2 linked regions of the Homo sapiens genome follow. The protein of the gene in region 2 interacts with the protein of the main gene of each other region in a pairwise test. Each region holds a gene or a part of one and is shown on either strand. Other genes may lie near its edges.

The links. Proteins that work in one complex are often made in the same cells at the same time.
Region 1: the proteins of TBPL1 (region 2) and IRAK4 interact in a two-hybrid assay, tested with the Homo sapiens proteins (one large-scale study listed by IntAct).

What each region holds. Positions count from the first base shown.
Region 1 is NC_000012.12:43,765,451-43,768,950, reverse strand, and holds part of IRAK4 (interleukin-1 receptor-associated kinase 4), read right to left. Parts: intron 849-3,500; 5' UTR 840-848; coding exon 679-839; intron 1-678.
Region 2 is NC_000006.12:133,980,724-133,984,223, reverse strand, and holds part of TBPL1 (TATA box-binding protein-like 1), read right to left. Parts: intron 1,657-3,500; coding exon 1,574-1,656; intron 1,408-1,573; coding exon 1,344-1,407; intron 1-1,343. UniProt on the Homo sapiens protein: Part of a specialized transcription system that mediates the transcription of most ribosomal proteins through the 5'-TCT-3' motif which is a core promoter element at these genes. Seems to also mediate the transcription of NF1. Does not bind the TATA box.

The DNA of each region.
Region 1 (3,500 bases), on a different chromosome or scaffold from region 2:
CCCAGATTAATGCTGAAAATAACAAATAGTCTTCTTTTCCTTTTGCTACCAAAGAAACATTTTGACATAGGTTTTAACTGCAATGACTGACAAAAATAAAATATGCATGCATATTTTACACTAAATTGAGCAGAGATGAGTAAAAAGGAAAAATTGAAATTATCTGAAGACAGCACTGAGAAATCCTAGCTAAGATTTAAGAATTCTGTGCACAGAAGTGTACACTTGTAAGCAACAACTTTAAAACGTCAAATTGAAAAAGTCCCAAAATACATTGTTAGAGTGTGTTAGAGATTCACACACTTTGAAATTTAAGCTCTAGATTTTTACCAGACATTCTTGTAACATTCTTATTTTCCTTCAATCTGGAAATGAGAAGTGTGAGGCAGAGTGAACTTCACTTGGCTTGCCAAACAGGGAACCACAGCAAAGGTGGGAATCTTGATTCTAACCCAAAAAACTTATTTGAGAGATCACAGTATTAGCCCTATTGACATATGGGACAAAGAAGACAAAACTGCAAAAGGAACAATCAAAAAGAGGTTACCTACTACCAATGTCTCCTCCATAGTGGAGAGGTTTACTTTCTAAACTGCCACATTAGACAGTACTTATACCAATTAATCATTCCATATTGTGATGTAAGAATTTAAAAATACAAAGAATTTTATCTGTTACCTTATGTGAAACTGATTGTATCTATCATCACCAGATGGTTTTTTAATAGCTACAGCTAACTTCTTCCATCCTTCTTGAGGATCAATAAAATCTGACAGCTTCCTAATTAGTCCAACATTGAGGCAGCGCACATATGTTGATGGTGTTATGGGTTTGTTCATCTTCTATTCCTAAAATATGGAAAAATCTCATTAAAATTTTACAGTACTTTTAGAGATGACATCTGTAAGCTTATATATCACACTTTGCTATATCATATGAAATGTCAGCAACTGATTATACCATAATAAAGAAACATTCCAAAGTCAAGTCATTGATATCCTAAGATGAAATTAAAATTGTAATTCATTTGTCCAATTATCCTCTGGGTTTGCTTCCTTTTTCCACCCATTAATAGCAATAAAAATCGGAGGACTTTTTTCTGACACTGATATTTTCCTAGTAAAATTTATAGAAAGGGGCAAAAAACTTACCAGAAAAATTCTTAAGAGTAATATCAACAAACTATCAGAATTAGCATATTCAGAAATCAAATCTATTAATAAAAACATTTACCTTTCAATTTATGTTTCTCAATTAGTACTTATTTACAATTAAAATTTATGCAACATTCTTTGGTAGAAGTAAAAAAAAAAAACGTACTGAAATGATTTGTGTAGCATTAACAGATATGGTCCACCCACCCACTTTTCACATACTTTGCTCTTCCTTGACCTCTGCACATTTTTTGAGTCCATGAGATCTGCCTGACCACAATTCATTTGCTACTACGCCAAAACCTGTGCTTCACCACTTCAACTACTCTCTAGACAGAATCTTTATTTCTGCAATCCCCCTTTACTTCTGCTACTCCATCCTGGAGAGCTGCAGCCAGGGATAAATCTAACAACTTTACTTGTACACCAGGGTTGCTGATGTGAATACAAATTTATGGTAACCCCCTTTCCACAGGGCCTTCAACACTGCCGTTAATCCTTCCACTTGTCTTCTCTCATAGTCCTTAGTGACTATTTCATACCTTTACTTCTTTCTATGTGGATTTTATTTGTTCTGCGTGTCCCTCATTCTCAATAGGAAATGATCTTTCCTTCCAATTAAGACAAATAGACTCAGATATTCTTCTGTCAATTATTTTTGCTTCCCTATATATATTTTAAAAATACAATTTTAGAGTAAATAATGTGTTCATATGGAACAACATTCTAAAACTATCAAAAAGAGTAAAAAGCGAAAAGCTTCTCTGTATCAGAGGCTTCTATGTTAGTATTCACTTCTTCTCTTTGGACTTCTTTGACCACATCTAAATAGGTCTAGCTGCCCTTCACCTAATTATCTTTCATCACTGCACAATGTATTTGTAATCATATACTTATTTGTTTACCTGTTTACTGTCTCCCATATTCGATTTTAAGATCCATGAGTTCAGGACCATGCTAATTTTATTCATGAATATACACCTAGTGACTTGCATACTGTAGATAATGGTATTGTTCAGTATTTACTTTTGGAACAACTAAATTATTTCCCAGTACAGTTTTATCATCTCTATTTTACAAAGGTGGTAAGTGAGAGATCCAGGACTTACAATTATGTCTGACTCCAAAAGTCATGCCATACAACTCTGCTTTTATAACACAATGCATTGTTCATGCCATTCTCTATTTCAGAAAGACCATTCCTTTCCTTTCATTCATGAATACATTCAGAAAATATTTATGTCAGTCTTTGTACTAACAAGTGGGAGCACAGAGAAGAGAAAATCTTTGTTTCCAAGCTGTTCAGTATACCAGGGGATACAAACAGTGACAGGGAGTGATAAATGCTGCAAGAATGTTATGGGGCCCAGAAAAGGGGCATCAAGCAGAGGCAGTCTGGAATAGGGATATCAAGACAGATTTGGTTGGAGTAGGAGGTTGGAAGGATGAATGAAAGGGAATGAGGATAAGCCCAAAAGAAAATTCCAGGCAGAGGGAATAGCATGGGAAAAGGTAAGAGCATGTGTGTCTCAGGCAAAGAGCTTGCTATGGCTGGACCACAGGATGCCTGTGATTAAGTGAGAAGAGATGAGGGTGGAAAGGTAGCAGGGCCAGATCATCATGTACCTCATGTGCTAAGACAAAGAGTTTGAACTTATAAACTAAAAGTTACAGGAGAGCCACTTTAGGATTTTTAGGAGGGATGTTAAATAATCTTATATGGTTAAGTGGATTCCTCTGGATAAAAATCAAAGGGATGTATATTGAGGCAAGAAAATTAGTTTGAAAACTTCTGCAATAATCCAGGTGAGCAGAAAGGAGAGCTTGGAAAAAGTATAGGGTAGGGGAATGGAGAGGTAAAACGTCAAAACATTTAGGAGGCCAAATCAAAACAATTTCACTAGAGATGAGCGATTAGAAGAAAGGGAGATAGAATGAAGTTTTTTTTTTTTTTTTGGCTCATGTTAAATGTGAAATATCTACCTTTGGCACTATCTAGGAGCCTTCATACCAAGTACTTATATATGTGGTCTGGAGCTTAGGAGAGAGGTTTCAGCAAAGAATGCTCATTATGTAAGTATTCTCATATATAAGGGGTTTTCAAAGAGTTCATGGAAAATGCATATCGTGCAAAAACCATGCATGGATTTCAATTTTTTTTTTTTTGCAAAATGTATTTCCAAAATAAACTCATACTAACTTATCATTCATGTCTAAACAGGATCTAGTTGAGACACTGAGAAGAATAAGACAGTTTGAAAAGAACCTCTACCACAGCAACATGAATTCTGCTAAAACTAAAGCAAGAACAAACACCACATTTATGGTGGAGGTTGGTTGGAAGAA
Region 2 (3,500 bases):
AGCTTTAATTCAGTTTTTTAAAAAGCTCAAAAACTCCATTAAAAAAATTAAAAACTGAGGTATTTGCATGATCAAAACAGTATGGGTCTTTCTAATCATATGTTTAATTTTTTAATACTTTAAGTGAAATATTTAAAACTACTGAGAAAGGAGAGAGAATAGTGAGGGAAAAAAAATTTAAGTCCAGGTCATCCTGCTAGAGTAAAAATGGAAAAGATGTCACTTTAAAGTCAGTAAATACAGAGTGTACACTGGGCTCCAAAAGTCAGATGTTTTTCTCATATGCAATAAGGCAAAATGACATTTCTGTGAGATTAGCTAGATGTTTATTTTCTTTCTGGGGATAGAGTGATAAATTTGTTTCTAACTAATTGGGATTTCTCTCAACACTTCTAATGTTACACTAAGAAAAGAAGTTCCAAGGCTGAAAATAATGCTGTTAACATTAATAACTTTGGCCACTCCAACCAACATCTTCGTTTCATCTCATTATCTTTTCAAACATTCCTCCTAAAACCACAATTTTGGGTGAGCGAACTATCCTTCAACTCAGCCTTGCACACAGCAGTTGCGCAAAGCCAGGAAACCGCAAAGTGGCAGCACTCTCAAATCACAGTACAACTCAAGCCTCTCTCTACTGCCACCCTTCTCAAGCACCAACCCCCACTCCCCACCAGCCGTTCAGTCTCTTCCTATCACCCTCTACTTCAGAGAGACTGAGTCATCAGAGGGAAAGGTAACTTCCTATCCCCACTTCTACAAACTTGTCTCAATCCCAAACAGCCTTGCCCTCATCTTCAGGGACCATTCTCATCTTTATCTTTCATTTATTCATCATTTGCAAGTGACCTAGCAAGTCCATAATATGTAATCGTTTTATTCAAAGGTATACCTCTATCAAGTTATAGTGATGAGGCTGACATGCCAGTGACAGTCACGTTACAAGTGTGAGAGCCTGCCAGCTGGTGTGTCCATGTCAACGGCCTCTGCCATTCTCTATTCACCATTCTGACCTGGCATTCTTGAGATGACCAAAAACCATTTTGTTTGTGTACGTCAGAGGTGAAAACACTTAAAAAAGAGTTGAAAAGGAAATTAACTTGTGAGGAAACAAGTCTCTTTATGGGAAAGGAATTAGGGAAAAAGCTAGGATCCTTTACAAATACCCACATAGCCAAATTTTGCTACTAATTTTCACACTGAAGGGCAGTATTAAAAAACCTAGAAAAAGTTTAATCATAAGAATAGTACGCATAGTGATTTCTTGAGTCTATTACAATTTTTAATTCTATAAAAATAAGTCCTTGAATATTTGTAGTTTAGATACTATTTGAAAACGTTACCTGAAAACCTAGTTTCTGCAGACTACGGGCTAAGCGTCTGGCACCAAATTTAGCTTCTTCTTCACTACGGTTTTAAGGAAAGAAAAAGATTATCAGTTACACAGGAAATAAATGTTATACTGAGGAACATAACAAACTTTACATATGATTTTGCTGTTAAGTCTAGGAAAATGTCCTTTCCATGAGGGAAAAAGTAAAAAATAAAAACAAAAAACCCAAGTAGCATTTACCTTGTTGCTCCAGTGCAAATAATTTTTCCTGAGGACCAAATTGTAGCTGTAATTCTAGGTTTTCTAAGCTTCATTAATACTTTCTGGGGGGAAAAAAAATCTGATTACCTCATAAGCATTATTTTTCACATAAGGTTCTGTTCTATATAGTCATATTAATGTCCAAATACTACTCTCCAAGCTTATCCAAGACTGCAATAACTGCTCTCCAAATCTACCATTCTGAAATCAAGTACAATACCAAACACAAAGAACATATTAATCCAAAAAGACATTTGATTAATTAAAAATACAAGGTGTATAGAAATCTCTCACTCTATATACTTGAAATCAATGTACTCCAAGTATATAAACAATTCAACTCTCATTCCACCCCAGTCATATAACTGGAACTTGCATGGTTCTTCACACACACCAAATCTGTTCATGCTTCAGAAGCTTTGCAGTAGCTGTTGCTTTCATTTGGAATATTATCCCCTCAATATTCTCACTTCATTCAGGTCTCTTACCAGATGTCACCTCCTGAAGAGAGGCCCTCCCTAATCATTTCCCTGAAACACCCATCCCTTCATTGCTTTCTAATTCCTAATTCTGCTTTCTGCTGCTTCATGGTACCCATCACTACTTTATATTGCATCCTAGAGTTGAGATGCTTATTACATACTCAAGTTCAACATCGGCATCTTGAATAAAGGAGAAATGTTGGAGCTGGAGATGTAATTGGAAATTCATTTAAAGCTATGGGTTACAATGAAATAACTACAGAGTGTGTATAAATAGGTCAAGGACTAAGCTCCAAGAAAATATGCAAATTTAAATTTTCATTCCAACTTTTCATTAATGGAAATATTTGTTAGATGCTCATTCTATGTAAGAAAGACATAAATGCTCACTGACTAACATAAATGAATCAGATGTTTCTGCTTAAAATTTTTGTTACATTTTGTGTTCTTCATTCTCTGTCATATGCCATATTATCAAACTAGAAAGCTATTAAATCTGGGCAGACTCAAAATTCACCAAAGATCAAGATAAAATTTGAACTAAAATACATTATAAAATTTCATATACAAGTGACTGAGAAACACTTGACTGAGTTTATCCTACATTTAATTGTCTCTCACCATCACCAGCTTGTCTATCAACTCAGAATTTTCAATTAACCTGCCTTAAAAAAACTACTTCCTTTCCATATGTCATGCTGAAGTACCAAAGCAGTGTTAGGCATATTCCTCTCTAAACTTTTGAGCAGACATATTTATTACTTTTCTAAAGGAAGGATGGGATTGCTGACAAACTTGAAAATCTTTGTGAGTCACTGAAATTTTTAATTGAATTTAATTCATCTTTACTTAGTTTCTAGTACTAAGAATTAATGACGGCCAGGCACGGTGGCTCACGCCTATAATCCCAGTACTTTGGAAGGCTGAGGTGGGTGGATCACAAGGTCAAGAGATTGAGACCATCCTGGCCAACACGGTGAAACCCCGTCTCTACTAAAAATACAAAAATTAGCTGAGCGTGGTGGTGTGCACCTGTAATCCTAGCTACTTGGGAGGCTGAGACAGGAGAATTGCTTGAACCTGGGAGGCAGAGGTTGCAGTGAGCTGTGATCATGCCACTGCATTGCACTCCAGCCTGGCGGAAGAGTGAGACTCCGTCTCAAAAAAAAAAAAAAAAAAAAAAAATTAATTAATTAATGGCAATTTACATAGGTATCCTGGCATCTAATTTTTAAAGCTAAATAGAGCCTTGAGATACATTCTTAATTTTCATAACAAATGTGTAAAATACATATTCCTCTCGTCAATCTTTGGTTTATAATGACATCCAATGTCTTTTATAATGTTAATCTCAAAACACTAAGGTTTTATTATTACTTATTAATATTCAGGCTTTAAAATATTACAGGTTTAACAAAAACTAA